Regions from separate parts of the Homo sapiens genome. Here all the other regions are reported to be linked to region 2. Evidence: microRNA targets listed by miRTarBase, many of them from high-throughput screens and not tested one by one. Region 2 holds a microRNA gene; each other region holds the end of a gene's coding sequence. Distances are from middle to middle.
What was found. Region 2 holds the annotated microRNA hsa-miR-548a-5p (AAAAGUAAUUGCGAGUUUUACC, at 1,317-1,338, opposite strand). A microRNA usually pairs through its seed, bases 2 to 8, with sites in the 3' UTR of a target mRNA and lowers its output. Matches are read on the target gene's strand: a 7mer-m8 pairs with bases 2 to 8, a 7mer-A1 pairs with bases 2 to 7 and ends in A, and an 8mer does both.

Region 1 (4,118 bases), not on the chromosome of region 2:
CTTTCCTACGTGAGTCACTCAGGTCTTCTTAAAGGGCTCCCTCCCCCGACAACTTGGGACCCGCGTTTGGAGGGCGGAGCCTTGATCATTGGCCCCTCCCTGTAGGAAGGCAACTGGGGCCAGAAAGGCCGGAGCGCTCACTCCGGGATCAGTGGAGCTGGGTGGACTCGGGACTCAGCTGAAAGCAGCTAGTCCACGGGCCGCTGCCAGGGACTCCCGTGCCCCACGCACCCCCGCCGGCACATCTCCTGGCCGGGCTCCTCCGCACGCAGCTGCCTCCCTGTGGCCCGGGATGGCCCTCGGGCGTCACACCAGCGGCTTTCCGCACAGCCCAAGGGACTGGGGTCGCGCCGGCTCCCGCCCCCACCCCTTGCTGCAGAGGGGCAGCCGCCTGCAGAAAATCAGCAGAGGTAAACCGAGGCGTCGCAAGCGGAGAATGCCTGCTCCAGCGAGGCGTCGCAAGCGGAGAATGCCTGCTCCAGCGAGGCGCTCGCGCGGGGCCACCGGGAATGTGCGCTGAACTCACCCCGACGCATCCGCCAGCCCCATGGCTCGCAAGTTGTCCGGTGCGGGCTGCTCCTGCTGCTCGAGCTAGAGGCCGCTACGCTCCGGAAGGCGGCGCCGGGACCGGGTGAGGCCAGCTGCGCTCTCCCGGGGGCTAATCCCGGGGCAGGACGGGGAGGCTTGGGCCAATCAGCGCGCTGGGGCGGGGCCTAAGTGGCGCGCGCCGGGCGGGGAGAGACTGGAGAAGGAGGATTTAACCGCTTCCTCCCCGGCGACCTGGCCTATGAGGCCTCTCGCTGCTCGCCCGGCCCTCTGCCCGGAGCTGGATGGGACTGCAGAACTGGAACTAAGCACCCGCGCCGGGCTGGCCGCAGTCGCGCCCCCAGGCCCTGAGTAGGTTGGAGCTGATCCCAGGTCCTGGCTCGGCGGAAGGTGCTCACGGAGTGGGAAAAGGAAACTCCACTGGCCGGTGACCCCAGCCTTAACTCGTAGGGGATCCAGGTCTGTGGGGCCTCTCTTGCCTTCAGCTGAGAGCGCCACCCGCAGGCTTTCTGCGACTACGCATCTCTTTGAGACCCGGAGCCAACGGTCCCCAAGTCCTCCCCTTTAACTCTGGCCACCCAGGCCAGAAATGGTTGGAGGATCCCCTCCGCTGCACTAAGCACAGCCCGGACGTAGCTCCCAGAAGGTTACTGCGCGGGCCGCCGAGGAGAATGGTGGGGGTCAGTGCTGTTGGGTGGGCGTCAGTGCTGTTGGGTGGGCAAGGCAGGAACTGCAAGAGCAGTTCCTCAGGTTGGTTTCACCGCAGGTGAGGGCAAAAAATGCCGGGTCAGGGCTGCAGACCCTGAAGAATTAGGAAGTCCTGTTGCCGTTGCCTTGACCAGCGGGGAGGTTTTCCTTAGCACCTTATTTTCAGCACCTGTGCTCCAACATCAGGCCCCAATTACAAAGTGAGGGGCCAGATTTCAAGGTGAAAGAGATCTGCCATGAAATGGGCTAAAAATAGCTGGATATTCTTGGGAGGGGCTCAGATTCCTCCCAAAGGTCAGTCTGGCTTGAATCATTCACAGCTTCCATCCTACCTCCCCAGCCCCCAACAGGAAAAGGCAACAACTGTTTTCTATAGAAGTTTATTCCCAAAACAGAGCGCGGCTTCACGGAACAATTTACACAGACAGGAAAGAGGGCCGCTGGGCTGGAGGAGGGGAACCCCAGAGAGGGGCATCTACGAAACCTAGGACATAGTAAAGACACCCTCCCACCCCCAGCAGGCCACTCAGCCCTTCAAGAGCTGGGGTCCTTCTCGGTAAGGAGAGTTTGGGTCCTGGCTGGTGGGATTTAGCTCCAGTCAGGGAAGTAGAATTTCTAATCTCCCAGGAAGCTGCTTCCCAAGAGTATGCATGGGGTGGTGGGTGAGGAGGTGTCTGCACAGACCACCCCCCAGCCCTGCACAGCCACTCTCCCCCGTGGTTAGAGGACGCCTACTCTCAAGGTCTTCTGGATCTGCTGTTAAACGGGACTCAAGGCTGACCTTCGGCCTGGGAGACCTGGGGGTTAGAAAACCCCTCAAGATGGCCAGGTCAGGGTCCTCACAGGTGGGTCCTCCAAGTCCCTCTCCCACTTTCCCTACCTTTCACTTGGAAACAAAGGAAAAAAAATTATCTACTGTAAACAAAGTGTAAAACTCAAAGTTTTGAGTTGTAAACAAAGTAAAAACATTTTTTGAATCTGGACTTGTAAACAGTAACAAAATTTTAAAGTCTTCAGTTCTGGACAGCAGACAAAATAGCAAAAGTAAGAGTTTTGTGAACAGGGTCGTAACAGTCATTTTTCCCTTTTTAAGGGAATAAAGGAGGAGTGGAACGGAGTCACTTCCTGCAGCCCAGGTGCCTAGGGCCACGGAGGATCCTGTAAACATAGGAGGCAGTGGCACCTACATTCTGGGTCTTGAATTCCCTTGTTTCTGCTCCCTTTGCTCACCTTCCCACCCTACCCTTCGGAATCAATTCAAGCAGGGGGCAGTGTCAGGGAATCAAATGGCACCACAGACAACTTTTGCTTGCTGCAGGGGCAGGTGAATGACCCCTCCACCGACCCTCTGCAGGAATGTCTGACTAGAGGCCCGAGCCCCTCCCCGTGGGAGACAGGGAAGCCTTGCTCTGTAAACACGACATCAGCTGCTCCACCAGCACCCCACAGCATCAGTCCTAGGTCATAAGGCAGTAAGTGGCAGGGACTCCACATAATAAACACACACATCCACCAGGAGGGGCGGTATGAGCAAGCCCCCATGAGGAAGTCAGAGGACCCCTGTTTCCAAGACCAACCCCCAGCCCCAGAAGTTTGGCCTTTGGAGCATTCAATAAAAAGCAAAGAACAATTCTGTACTTTGGGCCCCTGACGATACTCAGATCAACTTGGGGGTGGAATAGGGGGAGGAAGGCATGTGTCCCACCCATCTGAGTCCACCCCAGGAAGGAGAGAGAGATGAGCATAGGGTTTGCTCAGGACCCAAATGGGGTCAAACTGCATCTCTCCCTCTATCTCCCTCCCCCTCCCAGCCCAGCCTCAAACCCCCCAGGAGACAGAAAAGCTGAAAAATAACATAAGCATCTCTCTGGTTACAAAGGTACAAAACGTATAAAAGTCTCCCTCCAGTCCCCCGTCTCTGCACCTGTCACACGCATGCTCACAGATGCACATGGAGCCTCAGCCCTGCCACACCAGGTAGAGCTGGGGCACCCACCACTGGGGAGCAGGAGGCTGCCTTGGGATCTGCCCCCACTCCTGGAGTCTCTCCTGTTAGCCTAGATCCTCTGTCGCCCTCAGCTGTTCCTCGTCCACGCCGTCATCCCCTCAGGAGTGACCCTCACTTCTGGGAACTCTGGAGGCACATGAGGAAATCAGAGGTTGATGCCCAGAGGACTCCGAGTCAGGCGGCTCTGGACTCCCCCACCACATTTGGCCTGGCTGCTTCCCTTGCCTCCACCACTGCTCTCGCCTCTTAGCCCCCAGCCCCTTCATGCCCACTCCAGGGTTCTCAGAGTCCTCCATTCCGCGCCCCTAGACTCAGCCAGGCTCCTTGGCTGCCCAGGTGTTTTCTCTAAGTGCTTCAAGAGCACCTACTGTTTACAGATGCTATATTGAGCACTTGACAGATATTATCTCATAGATTTCCACATCTCAAAGAGTTTGTTACTACAGACTTCTTTACAGATGAGGAAACTGAGGCCCAGAAAAGCTTGCCTCTGCCTAAGGTCACGCAGCTAGTAAGGTAAGACACAGAGCTCAAACTCAAACCTGTGCGACTCCAGAGCCTGGACCCCTGCTCAGTCCCTAGTCTACCTCCCAAACAGCCAGACCCCAAAGCTAGACTGCAGGGGGACCCAGGCCGTGGGTTAGCTCCCTCTGGTCCCCACCCCCAGCAGCCCTCAGTGCCCAAGCCCCAGGATCCCCAAACCCCTGCTCTTTCCTCCTTCCTTTGTCCTCTCTCTGCCCTGGGTCCTGCTCAGTTCTGTCGATCCCCTGCCCCACCCCTAGGGCCCCCTTCCTCCCCAAGCCATCTCTTACCCCACAAACCCCCAGAGCCTGACCCAGCTGTTTCTCCTCCTTGA
Region 2 (4,108 bases):
TCTGTGTCTGCTTGGTCTTGGAATTCTATTAACTTATCACAAGTGGGCTGTTATCCTTTCTTCTCCCCTGCTCTCTTATTGACCTTTGTTCTGGGTTGCAATTCACTTTCATGATCCCAGGAATAAGCACACATAAGAAATGGAAAATGATCTGTTTCTATTTCTCTTCAGAAACCACTATTATTTTAGAACTTTTCATGTACGATAGCTTATTTAAATGTAAGATTCAGAGATTTTTTTGAGACGGAGTCTTGCTCTGTCACCCAGGCTGGAGTGCAGTGGTGTGATCTCGGATCCTGCAACCTCCACCTCCCGGGTTCAAGCAATCCTCCCGCCTCAGCCTCCCAAGTAGCTGGGATTACAGGCATGCACCACCACACCCGGCTAATTTTTGTATTTTTAATAGAGACAGGGTTTCACCATGTTGGCCAGGCTGGTCTTGAACTCCTGACCTCAGGTGATCTGCCCACCTGGCCTGTCAAAGTGCTGGGATTACAGGCATGAGCCACCGTACCTGGTCAGATGTTTTAACATTTAAACAATGACAATAATAGCAAACAGTTACACAGCACCTACTATAAGCCAAGAGCTGCTATGTGTATATTACAATGCTGTTCCCAGAGCATTATGTATATTAATTTGTTTGATCCTCCAGTAGCCCTATTATCCCCATTTTACAGATGAAGAATGGAAGTACAGGTGATTGACTTCCTGAAAGGCACATGCCAGTAAGGAGTTGGACAGAAATTAGAATCCAAGCAATCTGACTCCAGACTTTTACGCACTATACTGTTGCCTCTAAGCAATTTTAAAATAAACATTTTATAGGTTACAACATGTTGAAATATTAATACAAGTTATTTTAAATGTAGAGAAATAACTGCTAATCTTTAAATTTTACCAACTGCCTAAATATGTTTATTTAAAATTGCATCAATGCTGTGATTTCTGACTGAATATGCTAAGGCAAATTGTTTTATCCTTGTATTTGTAATAAACAGATATGAGATACACATACATGCCTGACATGACAGTGGAGCAGAGTTAATTTTATATCCTTTTAGCAAATACATTTCTAAGGCTGTAAAACTTTTTCTACTTAAAATATTAATAATGGCAACTTAATGTTTCTTGCTATGTATTAGGTACTGTGCTGGGGTAAAGATGGAATGACTTACCTGCTATTCCTTTTATTTAGAGGTGAGTCTATTTCTTTTCCTACTGAATCTGGGTTGGCCAGTGATTTGACACGTAGAATGTGGCAGAAGTATTACGTTGGTGCAAAAGTAATTGCCAGTTTTGCCATTGAAAGTAATGGTAAAACTCGCAATTACTTTTGCACCGACCTAATAACATTCTAGGATGTCTGAGACTCTGTCATAAGAGCCTTGCAGCTTCTGTATACTGTAACATTCATTCTTGGGTCCAGCTTCCATGCTCTAAGGAAACATAAGCAACCTTGAGGAGACTCATATGAAGAGGATCCCAGGCTCCTGGCTGAGCACCCAGCTGACAGGCAGCACAAACCTGCCAGTCACTCAGGTGAGTTCTTTGGGGAGTATATTCTCCAACTCCAGCAGAGGCCAAGAGGAGCAGAATGAGCCAATACCACTGAGCTCTGCCCACATTATTGATTTGTGAGAAAACTGAATGATTGTGGTTGCTTTAAGCACAAAGTTTGGGGGTAGTTTTTTATGCAGCAATAGATGGACAGAACAAGTGCTAAGGCCTTTACACGTTATCTTTATTCCTCACAATGATCTTATGAAGAAGCTATTATCCTTACCTCAAGATGACAAAGCTGAGGCTCAGTGAGTTGGCATAATAATCCAGGTCTGTCAACTCCAGCTTGATAGATATTTCTCCTGATAAATCTTACTTCACTTTATGATCCATCTTATTCACAGCTGTTGAGTCAGGCACGACTAAGGTTAAATCTTAGTTCTGCCCTTATTGGCTATATGACCTTGGATAAATAGAAGGTAAGTTTGTTACTTCACAGGACTGTGAAGATTCCAAGGATACATATAAAGAAATTGGCAGGTGATAGGCACTCAACAATGGGCAAATATTATTGCTTTGAAAATTCCTATAATGCAGAAGCAGCTGGTGGTAAAAGGCTCGCAGAATAGCATTTGATGGTGTGAATACCATCACGGTGTGGGATGCACTCATTTAGGAGCAGGCACGTGCAAAAATGTCAGAATGGCCTGACTTCTAATAGGAAAAAACCTCATGACATCACATGATGGTAAACCATGTATGCATACATGGCCTATGTTTACCTGTATGTATAACATAATATGGGTATATAATTGATTTAAGTCTAGAAAATTCCCGACTAAACAGCTATGTCTGTTACTTCATTTTAAGATTCCTTCCAGCTCTAAAATTCTGTGAATTTTACTTAGCATCCTTTGTCTACCTTGAATGTTGATTACCTTAGGAAACAAATGCAATCACAGCCAGCTATCAGCTCATGCCAATAACTATATACAATTTGCAATTTGTATGCTATTCCTGAAGAAGAGTTCAGGTATTCAGAGAAAAGGCCTTTCTCTCTACTGCCTGCTTCTACTAATTTTTAAACAGGGACCTTCCTGAGTAAAGCAGGTCCTATCAAGTTGCTGTCATCTTCTCCCCTGGAAATTTGGGGGAAAAGGTGTGAGGGAATGGTGGAGCAGGTGAAAGGAGGGCCGCTGTAAACTGCTGTGAACATTGCTGGGTCTGTTGTAGGTGCTCAATAAACACTTAGAGAATTCAATGAACTTGTTCTTCCTTTATCCCATTTAGCCTGTCTTACCCACTTATTTCCAGATGAACAGTGGATGACGGTGGTAAGCAGTAGTGAGAATTAAAACCTCAACAGCTTATTGAAAGACCCCTTCATCCTGTGCTTTTATATTCTTAGTGCTAGTGTATGACATGAGCCAGTAACAGGGCTTCTGGCCCATAGATCCCTTCTGATAACAGCTCCTTTTGTTTCCATTCTCTTCCCTACTAATATTGGTGCTCTGACTGACAAGACAAAGGACTGTATCCTGTTGAGAAGATCTAAAATCTGAGTAACTCCCACTAAAATCTGTATCCTGTAAAGAAATAACACACTTTCTAAAAGTGCTCTTGGGACATTTAAAAATTGAAAGACAATAACCGCCCCCCCAACACATATACTCTTAACATTCTGTTTTTGATGCCATAAAATGAAAAGAATCAGAAAACAAAACTAAGACTCACACCAAAAAATTATCATTATCTAGAAAAAAAAGCAAAGAAAAAAACTTCTTTTATACAACTTTTGGATTAAAGAAGGTATCAAAACTGAAACTTAAGAACATTTAGAAAATAACAGTAATGACATTAATGCAGCCAAATGATTCGCCTTAAGCAGTGCTCACACTTAAGTCCATGTCTTCATCTCTTCTTAAGAATTAAGAAGTAAAAATAAATTACATGCTAACTCGAGTTAGAAAAAAACAAAATAAACCAAGGAAAGCAAAATGTGGAAAACTTATTAAAGTGGAAATCAACTAATTAGAAAGAACAAAATTACAGAATAGAGACATCCAAGCGGTTTGGGGAAAATAAAAAAATACACAATTAAAAAAGTAGGTAAACTGTTAGCTACCTTTATCAAGAAAATAAGGGAGAAACTTTGGGAGGCCGAGGCAGGCGGATCACGAGGTTAGGAGATCGAGACCATCCTGGCTAATACGGTGAAACCCCGTCTCTACTAAAAATACAAAAAAATTAGCCGGGCCTGGTGGCGGGCGCCTGTAGTCCCAGCTACTTACGACGTTGATGCAGGAGAATGGCATGAATCTGGAAGGCAGAGCTTGCAGTGAGCAGAGATCGTGCCACTGTACTCCAGCCTGGGCGACAGAGCGACACTCCGTCTCAAAAAAAAAAAAAAAAAAAAAAAAAAAAAAAGAAAATAAGGGAGAAAGCATAATACAAACTAAGGGGCAACATCCACATGCATAGAAGACGAAGAGTTAACTTTCCTCAACTAGGCAAATAAATTTGAAAACTTGGGATTAAATGGATGGTTCCTGATCCAGATAGGATATAAAAACTACATGGATTAATTACCTAGATGATACCAACA
Region 3 (4,118 bases), 75 Mb from region 2:
GTGTCAGTGCTTTTAAAGTTTGGAAAGTTTACCCATCTGACCATAGTAATTCAATTAAGGTGTCTTTAAAGAAATAACAAATTATATGAATACCTGTTGGCAAGTTCCCCCACACCCCACTTCAAAAGACCTTTGAAAGTCCTCCTCGACAGGAAGGAACAGCCCCTGCGGGAGTCCCCTGGGGCCTGAAGGAGAGAGTGAAGTACAACGGGAGGGGCGGAACAACCAAGAAGCATACAGTGTGAGTTTTTAGAGCCTGGCTGCTTTCCCTTCAGTAATACGGAAGTTTAGGGTTTCTATTTTAATTCCACCTCTAAAACCTGAAAAAGCCTAAGAGAGAAATATACTACCTAAAGACACTAGAAATAAATATAACAGTAGCAGCGCCACACACCATTACAAGAACCAAGGTGGCCTGGACAAAATGGCAGAATTGAACTTGGTGACAAACAGAAAACTAACAGGTTTAAATCTAGGCCCAAAGGAAGTAAATTCTCACTCTTGGTGAAAAAGCAAAAGTGACATGTAAGGCAGTGGGTCTTCAGAGCAGCCAGCGGTCTTCTCCAATGACAAGAACAACTGTGGGTGGAAGATGCCTTCCTCCTGTTCCCACTGAGCTCTCCAGGACATTCTCCTGCAGTGGTAGAAATATTCTTTCAGTTTTACCACATTGCCATATAGGGTCTGGTACTGCCCTTCATGGATGCGAACTTGCCTTTATTCTCTGAAGCTTTTTTTCTCCCTTAAAGGTGTTAAAACAATGAAACCTTTGAGTGCATCCACGGCAATCTTTGTATTTCTTTAGAAACTGCAGCTGTCTTAACAGTTTGAGTCAGTCTGTTCCTTTAAAAAGACCAGCAAGTACAAATGATACTAGCAATCCCATGATAAAGAAGCTATCAATTATAATAATCCCCTTACAATCAATCATGGATGTGGCTTGTCAGAGCGGATTTTTTCTCTGTCTCCTTGTACTTTCTGATTCAATTGAGAATAAGCGTCAAAATTCCACAAAAATGGGACTATGTTACATTTCCTCTAAGCAAAATAAAAGGAAAGGAAGAGAACGTAATCTCCTAATTGAAATAAAAAGATAAACCAAAAAAGAATATGAGTCGGTGGGGGGGGGGCGGTGGGAGGCTCATTCCTGAGAATAACAAATGCTACTCTTGAATTTGTTGGTTCAAGTAATACAGTAAAACAGAAGAGACGGCTCCACTTCACTTCAATGCTTGGAAGCTGAAAAAAGTACATATATTTTTTCCCCCTGAAATCCATGGACAAAAGTGGGACCAGGCCCTGCATATAGCTCTTTAAAGTCACAGACATATATAAGGTGGCACTTTCATGCCCTCTCAAAGACTTTCCTCACACTCACATAAGCAGGATTAACAGATAAGGAAATGATGCAGTCAGCGTGTGCCTTAAGTGGAAGGAAACCAACTACAAACTGGCGGATATTCAGTATCTCCTGAATGAGAAAGGGAAAACTGAGGAAGGTCATTCAGTCTCTCTCTCTCACAGTTTTAAGTTGAATACATTTGGTGGAGGAGGATGGGTGAAGAGGTAAGGAAATGGCACCTTCCTTTTATCTTAGAAATTGTTTTCAGGTAACGGACAAAAAGAAGCCGTGCTTAACATCCAGCCCCACATGCCCCTTTAAACAAGGCTTCATTATACATAGGAGAGATGGAGCGAGGCAGAAAATCCACAGCAGTTGTGCCTCTTTCAGGCGCACCCTGTGCTGCTACATTGAAGGCTCTTTCCTCTTACCCACAGTGACAGTGTGTCATTTAATCGGGATGCCAAGAGATCATTTTCATACAAGGCCAGCAGATGTAATTTTCTTTGATGCATGAATAGTTCATCATTTTGCTACTAGATGACAAGGTGATCACAGGGTGACTTTAGAATGCAAGTTCACTGTTTGGTATTTTGAGTTCTCAAAATGAAAAAAAGATTTATCAAATATAAATATCTTTAAAAAGTAACAAAAGTGCTACATATGTGATCAAGGAAAAAAATTCCATTAGTTACTGCCGCTTAAAGTAGATTAAACTTTACAAATATTACCACATCCATTATCAATATGGCTTCCAATTATTAAATAAATTGCCTGTAGCAATACAGCTTTTCACACCTCTCCAAGGACAGAGTAAAGAGAACAGCAAAGCAGTCCCATCGTGTTCTCATACAGCCACAATGTGAGTAGGAAACGTCCCCTGCTTTTCTCTGCTCCTATCTGGGCAAGTGTCTGCATCTGTGATAAGCAGCACAACCCCACTATGAAGTCCTCTAGTGACCTCTCAGAGTGAGGGGGCTTCCGTTTAATGGATACAAACACTGCAAGTTTTTTCACTCATTTTTGACCTTAGCTCCATCCTTGAAAGACTTTTTTGGTAGCAGGGAAAGGGGACACTGACAGGAGGCAAAGCAACTTCCACGATGACCTCCAAAACTTTTCCAGGCAGGCACTGCTAACTGTGCCGTGGAATGTACAGTGGTTCTGAAAACTGGACTTAGCATCCATTAGACATTCAGCTCATATTTTTTTTTTCCAATGCTCTCAAGCTGGGTTTTTTTTTTTTTTTTTTTTAATGACTTTTGGTTTTTGTCTTTGTTTTTAATCATGGTCCCAAAGGCAGAAGGCAGTATTTTATCTACTAAGTCACACAGCTTGTGAGAGGAAAGGATGTCTGTGTCAGGCATGTTAACTTCAAACAAAATCTGAGATCGGCTTTTTCCATTGACATTCTTAGCACAGCACCCAAAGAAGTATAATCTAGCCACAGTGTGGCTATAATGAGGCACGGCTTATTGCAGCTGGAAATCAATTATCCTCACGCTGAGGTGGGGATTCTAGTGTTCCTTTGACTCTGTGGATACTCCCCAAATGGTGTCTGTCATTCCTGTGCCACGACCTCAGCTTGCATCCTATCAGTCTTGGGGAAGGAAAAGGGAGTACAGACTAGTGTTACAAGAATCTAAAGGTACCCAAGATTTTACACGTAGTCTAATATTTGAGAACTGAGGGCTATCTAAATACCTGGAAGCACTTTCTTGGAATGCTAAGACGGAGCAGCAAGATTTTCTAGCCTCGGGGGCTGGGAGAGGGAAGTTTGGTTGGTTGGTTGGTTATTATTTACTGGGAGTTAATACTGAGAGAGTATATGCAAAGGCTGAGGGCACCATGCCATCTTCACAGAACAAGACCCTAACAGCTACCTGACATACAAGAAACTGCAAGTTATACTGTAAGAACACATGTTAAGGACCGAGGAAAGTCTGCTAAGGTGCTACGTCTAAACTAAGTTAACTTGTCATGTTTAACCTCCCTGATCAGTCATCATCCAGGGCCTCTGTCTTGATTTCGTTGGCTCCTTGTCGGGCCAATGCCAAGATAGTGTGGTTGACTGCTGCCATTTCCACAGCTAATGAGATGGGGTCTTGGTGGTCACTATGGCTCGTACTGTCATCCTAGATGTGCAGAAATAAGAAATGTTATTAGTGGATTGGAAGAATTCTTTAGTCACAGAGAGACATGCTGGGGCAAGGGGAGGCAGAACATTCGTGGGAGGAAACTGGGGGAGGGGCTCATGATAAAATAGAGGTAAATTGTATTTAAGTAGACACTGAATGGATATAGGTCCAAAGATTTTCAGTTGATAATCTTATGATTCAACAAGTAAAAAGCACAAAAAATGTTTTTCATCACTGAGAATTCTATTCATTCTATTAATAAGATTGCTGGTGATGATGATCAAACCTGCAGTGATTGATATAAAACCAACAATTTGGATCTTTCTGTTTGTAACAAATATAGCACTAATCACTGAAGGCCATACTAGTGAGCTATTAAATTCCAGATTGCTGCTCTTACAAATAGATTATTAGAATTCATGGTCCCTCTCTGAACTGAGAAAACTAGACAGAACTTACAATTACATCTTACAGATAAAAAATGCATTTTTGTAAAAAAAGAAAAAAAGAATTCTCCATTACAACAGGACACATGTCACTGCCAGAAACGGCTACGGGAGAAAGGGGAGGAAGGTGTCGAGCTCTCCTGCTGCAGGCAGCTGTGCAAGGGGAGCGGCAGGCGTCTTACCTAGAACTAG
Region 4 (4,098 bases), not on the chromosome of region 2:
ATTACAGGCATGAGCCACTGCACCCAGCCGCATTGCCTCCTTTCTTAGCTGCCTAACAACCCAGTTCACATGGAGTTGCACGTTTTGGTGTGATTGGCTTTCTCAAACCCACCCTTTGAGAGAGGATATACTAAATCATATGGAGTTGCTTAAAGTTCCTAAGCTTTAAGCACGTTTGCAGAGTGGGAGGTGATAATGATAGGGTAGATAGGAGAATTAAATGAGATAGTACATAAATGTCTTACTTCAGTGCTCAGTGACGTTTTTATTTTCTTTAAACTATTAAGGGTTCTTGCTCAGTGAATCATCATCATTGTCAATCATCGTTACAATGCCCAAGCTGTTACCTTAAAATTCCTAAATCACCCAACTGATATTCTCATGGATCTGAACCACTGGCATTTTTGGAGTGGGGGACAGGGAGAAGTGCAGAAAAGGATCAAAAGGCTGGGTTAGGGCACAGGTTCTTTTGGGAAAGGCACATTTGGGTGCGTGCAGAGAAGAGAGCTCTGGCCACATCTTGTTCACTCTGGCACTGATGGCAATTTTCTTTCCCCTCAGCATGATGACCGTGAAGGCGAAGGCAGTGACAAGTGGGTGAGCCGGGGCCGGGGCCGAGGAGCCTTTCCTCGGGGTCGGGGCCGGTTCATGTTCCGGAAATCAAGTACCAGCCCCAAGTGGGCCCATGACAAGTTCAGTGGGGAGGAAGGGGAGATTGAAGACGACGAGAGTGGGACAGAGAACCGAGAAGAGAAGGACAATATACAGCCCACAACCGAGTAGGGGCCACCCTTGACGGGATTCCTGCCCAGGGGAGAGAGGCGCTGGGAAGATGGCTGGTGAGGAGCTTAACAGAGGAACCTCAAGAAGATTCTGAAAATCCTACCCCCACCCCCCACCAGCCGCACAGATTGTACTACCGCGAGAGGCATCCCTGGCGCTGTCTCCCACTGGACAGAGGAGGCTGGCCATGGGGCCCAGGGGTCAGGCCCAGCTTTTGAGCAGAATACAACGCATTGGGCTTTAGCTGTTTTTCTCATTTGTTGGTGTGTGGGGTGGGGGCAGGGGTAGGGCGGGAGAGCGATGCTTGGATTTTTGTTTCCTATTAGAAACCAACAGTTTTGTTCTAATTTCATTTCATTTGGAGCTAAGATGACTAATTTGATGATTTTCGATCTCTTTTCCCCTGTCCTGATTTTAAAAGCCCCCTCCTTTTTTTTTTTTTTTTTCTTTTTTTAGGCATATGTAGTAATATTAGAAACATTTAATTTGGGAAACTTTGATTCTTGAAAGAGAAAACAAAAGCATGTGAATAAACTTTGAAGTGTTCACCTCAGTTTGGGACCAAACTGCTTGGATCTTTGTAAAAACCGGTTTTGTATGTCAAGGAGGAGTTTAAGGCCTTTCCGACCACCTTGTGTTCCCCTTTTCTGCGCAGCCATGTATCACGTGGAGTTGCTCCTTACCACACCTCACGTGCCCCTGAGCCCTATTTCCTGATTTCTTCTGGGCTGGACTTCCCCGTTCTCCACCAGCAGCTCCAGTATCCCAAACTTTCTAGTCCTGCTGATCCTCCCAGCAACGGGGTGGAAACTGGAGGGCAGTGTCTGGTCTGTTTTCTAAGAAACTTATGAATTCTATTATCTTTACAAATATGAGAAAATTTTTTCAATATTTTTTATTAATCTTTTTATAAAATGAAAAGAAACTCCTATGATCGATTAAGGAAGGTGGTTATGGCTGGGTGGTTCAGGGGTTTTTTTGGGTTTCTTTTTTTTTTTCTTTGTCTTTTTAACCTTAAGCTGTTTAAGTTGAAGCATTCTCAGATGTTTGGGGGGAAACATCCTCTTAAAATGGGTCCTTGTGCTTGCCTTCTGGGGAGGCGGTCCTGAGCAGGTGAATCATAAGGCATTTATGCATATGTTATATGCGGACTGCACCCACCTCTCCCCCCCAGCCTTTGCCTCTTGCGTTGTTGTGCTGCTTTCCCCTTACTTTGCTACATTTCTATAGTTAAGTTGGTTTTACTTGAATGATTCATGTTTAGGGGGAAAATGAAAATCTCCCTTAAAATTTGTTTCAACTCCTCCTGCAAATAAAATAAATGAAGTGGCAGATGTAAACGGGTTCTGTTCATTGTCATCCTGAGTGTGTGTGTGTGTTGAGGGTGGTAGATAACTTCCCACGGCAGTTTCAGAAAACCTGAAAGACAAAGGGCCTGTGGGGCCTTGCGCAGGCTGCTGGAGTCCCAGACAGACACAGTCCTTCCTGGGAGGAGCATTGTGTACCTTGGACACCCCAGGAGAAACAGATTTTTTCCACTGGTGTCATAGGCAAGGACTTTGGCTTCCTTCATCATGGTGGTGGGGCAGGGATCAAGGGATGTGGTTAGTAGGCTCAGCCTTCTACCTGAAAGAGCCTATCCCACATGGACTGGCCATAGGGTGGGCCCTAACCTTCAGACTCCTGCCGGCTGGGGACTCAACTGTGAGCAGAAATCTTGGAAGCTGGTAAAATTCATTCTCCCGGCCTAACTCCCAGGGAAAACCTGGAGGTGTTTTCTGAAACCAAACTAGACCTCTGGCCCCAAAGCAGGGGTCTTTGCTGTGTCCTTCCTATATGGGGGTAGAGAGTGGGTACGGGGCCAGAGAGGAGTACGCCTTGAAGGAAAGCAGACTGGAAGTGTCCACTCAAAGCTATTGCTGGTACAAGGGCAGCCACTTCATTCACTCAAGGCCGGTTTAGAGCGGTTGCTACTTGCTGGGGGGCCCCACCCTGGTATGTGCCTCTCCCCACCTTTTCCCCTCAAGCCAAAAGCTTGTGAGCTGGGGAAGGGTGGGCCTGGAAAGGCTCTGTGCAAATTGTAGCTGGGAGCCTCCGGGCAAAAGCTGAGGGAAAGGGAGAGGCGGCTGGCCTAAAATTTAGGTGGGCGGAAGAACCTGTGACGGAGCTGTGACCGCTGCACAGGCCAGAGACCCTGGAGTCCTCCTCACCCCGGGGTTGGGGGCCGGACCTGCTGAGCCGGGCCGCCCCCTCTCCACACCCACTCCCAGCACCTGGCCCGACCTATCGGCTGGCGGCTACGCCTCCTTTACCCTACTGTCTTGCCTCAGGTCGCACCCTGCGCGGGCCCAGTACTCGGCCGTCAGAGGGAGCTGCCAGGCTCTGGAGGGCGCCCCGGAAACCATGGGTAAGTGCGGAGGCTTTGAGGTGGCCTCTCTCTGCAACCGTGGACATAGCAAGAGCCCACACCACCCCCCGACCCCCGCTGCCCTCTACGGTGCTTGGGGACACGCCCGCCCTAGCCAGGCTGCCCGGCTGGGCCTTTCTGAGCCGCACGCCGGCCCCGTCTTCCGCCCGCAGAAGTCCTCGTCCTGGCCGGATACCGCGCGCAGAAGGAGGACGAGCTGAGTCTGGCGCCCGGGGACGTGGTCCGGCAGGTGCGCTGGGTGCCCGCGCGGGGCTGGCTTCGCGGAGAGTTTGGGGGCCGCTATGGCCTCTTCCCCGAGCGCCTGGTGCAGGTGAGGCCGAGCCAGGGGCGGGCTGTGGGGTCTCAGCGCGCGCCCCCCGGGAGCTGAGAGCGCCTTCCCCGTGCCCTGATTCCCAGGAGATCCCAGAGACCCTGCGGGGCTCCGGAGAGGCGCGGAGGCCGCGCTGTGCGCGCCGCCGAGGTGAGCGCAAGGGCGGGGACGGGCGCCGGTGGGCGGGTGCACGGAGCCAGTGCGACCCCGGCGTCTCCGGCTCTTAGTGACGGGCGCGGCTCTGGGCGGGACCTCGGGGCCGCCCTGCGGTCTGTGATTGGTTCTCGAGTGCAATGCTCCGCCCTGGGGCGGGGCTGGAGGGACCAAAGGCTACGTGCGCGCCTTGCGCTTCCCCCAGCTCCTCTGACTGGGGCGTCCGACTGGAGCTCAGCCGCGCTTGTCCGGTGCTAGGTCATCCTGCCAAACACCCGAGGCCCCAAAGATGGTGCAAAGTGAACTTCAGCTACAGCCCAGAGCAGGCGGACGAGCTGAAGCTGCAAGCTGGGGAGATCGTGGAAATGATAAAGGAGGTGAGGGGTGAGGTGATGGGACCGTTTGGGGGAGGATGATGGAACGC
Region 5 (4,118 bases), not on the chromosome of region 2:
GAGTGTACTACCTATGGAGTACAACACCTTCCTTGCCGGGGATTAAACATTCATTTTGGTGCCCAGCCTACGGCAGCAGCTCCACAGCTAGTGGCGATTATAATTAGCATTCTCTCATTTGGGGTTAGATTTCTTTTTTTGTGCCGGTAATGGCAACTTGAAAAGATACTCAAAGAGATTTTAAAAATTTAGTCTGTTAGTCAAACTTACTAGACAATGTTTAATGGAGATTGCGCTTATTGTGATTTTGAAAATTAAAACAACAACAACAACGAGGCTTTCTCTGGTTCCTTTTCATTGTAGAGTTATCCTCCCACATACAATGTGAAGGACATGCTTGTGCCGACTGCAGTCTGGAGCGGGGGTCACGACTGGCTTGCAGATGTCTACGACGTCAATATCTTACTGACTCAGATCACCAACTTGGTGTTCCATGAGAGCATTCCGGAATGGGAGCATCTTGACTTCATTTGGGGCCTGGATGCCCCTTGGAGGCTTTATAATAAAATTATTAATCTAATGAGGAAATATCAGTGAAAGCTGGACTTGAGCTGTGTACCACCAAGTCAATGATTATGTCATGTGAAAATGTGTTTGCTTCATTTCTGTAAAACACTTGTTTTTCTTTCCCAGGTCTTTTGTTTTTTTATATCCAAGAAAATGATAACTTTGAAGATGCCCAGTTCACTCTAGTTTCAATTAGAAACATACTAGCTATTTTTTCTTTAATTAGGGCTGGAATAGGAAGCCAGTGTCTCAACCATAGTATTGTCTCTTTAAGTCTTTTAAATATCACTGATGTGTAAAAAGGTCATTATATCCATTCTGTTTTTAAAATTTAAAATATATTGACTTTTTGCCCTTCATAGGACAAAGTAATATATGTGTTGGAATTTTAAAATTGTGTTGTCATTGGTAAATCTGTCACTGACTTAAGCGAGGTATAAAAGTACGCAGTTTTCATGTCCTTGCCTTAAAGAGCTCTCTAGTCTAACGGTCTTGTAGTTAGAGATCTAAATGACATTTTATCATGTTTTCCTGCAGCAGGTGCATAGTCAAATCCAGAAATATCACAGCTGTGCCAGTAATAAGGATGCTAACAATTAATTTTATCAAACCTAACTGTGACAGCTGTGATTTGACACGTTTTAATTGCTCAGGTTAAATGAAATAGTTTTCCGGCGTCTTCAAAAACAAATTGCACTGATAAAACAAAAACAAAAGTATGTTTTAAATGCTTTGAAGACTGATACACTCAACCATCTATATTCATGAGCTCTCAATTTCATGGCAGGCCATAGTTCTACTTATCTGAGAAGCAAATCCCTGTGGAGACTATACCACTATTTTTTCTGAGATTAATGTACTCTTGGAGCCCGCTACTGTCGTTATTGATCACATCTGTGTGAAGCCAAAGCCCCGTGGTTGCCCATGAGAAGTGTCCTTGTTCATTTTCACCCAAATGAAGTGTGAACGTGATGTTTTCGGATGCAAACTCAGCTCAGGGATTCATTTTGTGTCTTAGTTTTATATGCATCCTTATTTTTAATACACCTGCTTCACGTCCCTATGTTGGGAAGTCCATATTTGTCTGCTTTTCTTGCAGCATCATTTCCTTACAATACTGTCCGGTGGACAAAATGACAATTGATATGTTTTTCTGATATAATTACTTTAGCTGCACTAACAGTACAATGCTTGTTAATGGTTAATATAGGCAGGGCGAATACTACTTTGTAACTTTTAAAGTCTTAAACTTTTCAATAAAATTGAGTGAGACTTATAGGCCCAAAGAATTGTGTGTATGTTTTTTCTCTTTTATTTAACAGTCATCCGGTTCTTCCCTTTCTCTCTTGGCAGTACTTGGAACTCTTCTCAAGGTTAATGTGTTTACTCCGGGAAATGAAGGGCTACCAAGTAACGAGTGATTTTTAAAAATCATTTTTTTGTATGCCACAAGAGGGCACTCTTGGCTTTGCTTGCAAATCTTCCCACGCTCTCTTCCCTCACTACTTTTTCTTTTCTTTTCTTTTCTTTTCTTTTCTTTTCTTTTCTTTTCTTTTCTTTTCTTTATTATTATTATACTTTAAGTTTTAGGGTACATGTGCACAATGTGCAGGTTAGTTACATATGTATACATGTGCCATGCTGGTGTGCTGCACCCATTAACTCGTCATTTAGCATTATCTCCTAAAGCTATCCCTCCTACCTCCCCCCACCCCACAACAGTCCCCAGAGTGTGATGTTCCCCTTCCTGTGTCCATGTGTTCTCATTGTTCAATTCCCACCTATGAGTGAGAATATGCGGTGTTTGGTTTTTTTTTCTTGGGATAGTTTACTGAGATTGATGATTTCCAATTTCATCCACGTCCCTACAAAGGACATGAACTCATCATTTTTTATGGCTGCATAGCATTCCATGGTGTATATGTGCCACATTTTCTTAATCCAGTCTATCATTGTTGGACATTTGGGTTGGTTCCAAGTCTTTGCTATTGTGAATAGTGCCGCAATAAACATACGTGTGCATGTGTCTTTATAGCAGCATGATTTATAGTCCTTTGGGTATATACCCAGTAATGGGATGGCTGGGTCAAATGGTATTTCTAGTTCTAGATCCCTGAGGAATCGCCACACTGACTTCCACAATGGTTGAACTAGTTTACAGTCCCACCAACAGTGTAAAAGTGTTCCTATTTCTCCACATCCTCTCCAGCACCCGTTGTTTCCTGACTTTGTAATGATTTCCATTCTAACTGGTGTGAGATGGTATCTCATTGTGGTTTTGATTTTCATTCCTCTGATGGCCAGTGATGGTGAGCATTTTTTCATGTGTTTTTTGGCTGCATAAATGCCTTCTTTTGAGAAGTGTCTGTTCATGTCCTCACTACTTTTTCTAAGATTTTCTCCAGCATCTACCAGGGAAGGTAGAGAACTTTGTTGCTTTCTGAGCCAGTTGGAATTTGATGGCCAGCCATGGTAGTATTATTTCTGTTCAGGAGTATAATTAATTCTTGCCTAGTGGATAACATCTGGAAAACGTTCTCAAGGAATACCTGCCCCTCAAATGTAAACTGAAAATAAAAATTTGCCTAATAGGTAAATGAGTGATCAGAACTTCAGATGTGGTTGGGGGATGGGTGGCAGGAGGAAAAGGTTTTAACTCAGGCCTCACACATATATAGGACTGAAATTTAGACTAGTGACATCCCCAAATAATGATTATTTTGTGTTTGTGGGTATTAAAGGTGTTAATTTTTTAAATATAAACATTAAAAATACACTGTAATGTGATTTCTTGTCATTAATTTTTCAATGTATTAAGAGATTTTCAAAAGATAAGTCACTCTGATCTGTTGTGACACTGAAAGGCAACTTTGAATAGTAATTATTCTGATTTTTAAAAAGTTACCCAATCAGTATTTCATTATGTTGCGCTAGGTGCAGATTTGAACTTCAATTCCAAATTAAGCAAGCAAAACTCTTTGTCAAATTGTCTTAGCATTACTGAAAATAATACTTCACATTTTGTGTTGTGCCTTACGGGGTTTCAAAGCCTTTTCATAAAGCTTTAATATTTGCAATAATCCCTTTGACAGGTGAGGCGAGCATTTGTTTCTCTACAGGCAAGGGAATGCCTTTTTAATGGGGATGATTTTATATGCCTTAAAAGTTTCAGAGAGGTTGATGAGAGTTTCAACAGTATAAGTGAGTAGAAGCGCCCACTTAAATGCGACATGTAAGTGGATCAGAATAGAAAGTGTTTAAAACCAAATATGCACCAGTATTTGGACTAATAGGAGCATCAGGAGAGTGTCTGGAGGAAGCTAACATCCCCATGTTCTTTATCAGCATCTCCTATTGTTTTTGGCACGGCTAATTAATGTTTTCTGAGTCTTTTGTAAAGTGTCACATAAAAGCAGCTTCAATGACCCCTTCCAATACCAAACTCCTCCTGAAGAGATACTTACCTTGGAACCAACCCTGGCCCTTTTCTGCTCAGTTTGGCTGTAACTTGCTTTTTATCCCTAGCTAGCCTTGTCTTGACTTTTCTGAGACTGAATTTTTAATCTTCAGTCTTTAAAATGAAGGATTAGATTTTGATATTCGAGATCATT

Region 1: miRTarBase lists CELSR3 as a target of hsa-miR-548a-5p. Seed matches in the 3' UTR shown: 7mer-m8 at 2,296-2,302 and 7mer-m8 at 2,211-2,217.
Region 3: miRTarBase lists HMBOX1 as a target of hsa-miR-548a-5p. Seed matches in the 3' UTR shown: 7mer-A1 at 2,045-2,051 and 7mer-m8 at 1,985-1,991.
Region 4: miRTarBase lists THRAP3 as a target of hsa-miR-548a-5p. Seed matches in the 3' UTR shown: 7mer-m8 at 1,992-1,998.
Region 5: miRTarBase lists LIPA as a target of hsa-miR-548a-5p. Seed matches in the 3' UTR shown: 8mer at 1,670-1,677.

The regions. Positions count from the first base shown.
Region 1 is chr3:48,634,845-48,638,962 of GRCh38, forward strand. It overlaps CELSR3 (cadherin EGF LAG seven-pass G-type receptor 3), which reads right to left. Exons shown (of 35, transcript NM_001407.3): 35 at 1,619-3,388. The coding sequence ends at 3,361. SLC26A6 (solute carrier family 26 member 6) reads right to left here and starts at 617. Exons shown (of 21, transcript NM_022911.3): 1 at 527-617. The coding sequence starts at 549. RefSeq lists silencers at 56-155, 546-825.
Region 2 is chr8:104,483,104-104,487,211 of GRCh38, forward strand. It overlaps MIR548A3 (microRNA 548a-3), which reads right to left and starts at 1,362; the gene lies at 1,266-1,362. LOC105375691 (a long non-coding RNA gene) reads left to right here. Exons shown (of 3, transcript XR_928507.3): 3 at 1,146-1,184.
Region 3 is chr8:29,050,377-29,054,494 of GRCh38, reverse strand. It overlaps HMBOX1 (homeobox containing 1), which reads right to left. Exons shown (of 10, transcript NM_001135726.3): 10 at 1,233-3,477. The coding sequence ends at 3,340. Among named protein-coding and RNA genes, the nearest start is that of HMBOX1, 160 kb to the right of the region's middle.
Region 4 is chr1:36,303,235-36,307,332 of GRCh38, forward strand. It overlaps THRAP3 (thyroid hormone receptor associated protein 3), which reads left to right. Exons shown (of 12, transcript NM_005119.4): 12 at 562-2,123. The coding sequence ends at 783. SH3D21 (SH3 domain containing 21) reads left to right here and starts at 3,134. Exons shown (of 16, transcript NM_001162530.2): 1 at 3,134-3,190; 2 at 3,364-3,521; 3 at 3,608-3,671; 4 at 3,933-4,051. The coding sequence starts at 3,187. RefSeq lists silencers at 3,175-3,224, 3,445-3,884 and enhancers at 3,382-4,098, 3,985-4,034.
Region 5 is chr10:89,211,247-89,215,364 of GRCh38, reverse strand. LIPA (lipase A, lysosomal acid type) reads left to right here. Exons shown (of 10, transcript NM_000235.4): 10 at 304-1,793. The coding sequence ends at 537. Among named protein-coding and RNA genes, the nearest start is that of CH25H, 6.0 kb to the right of the region's middle.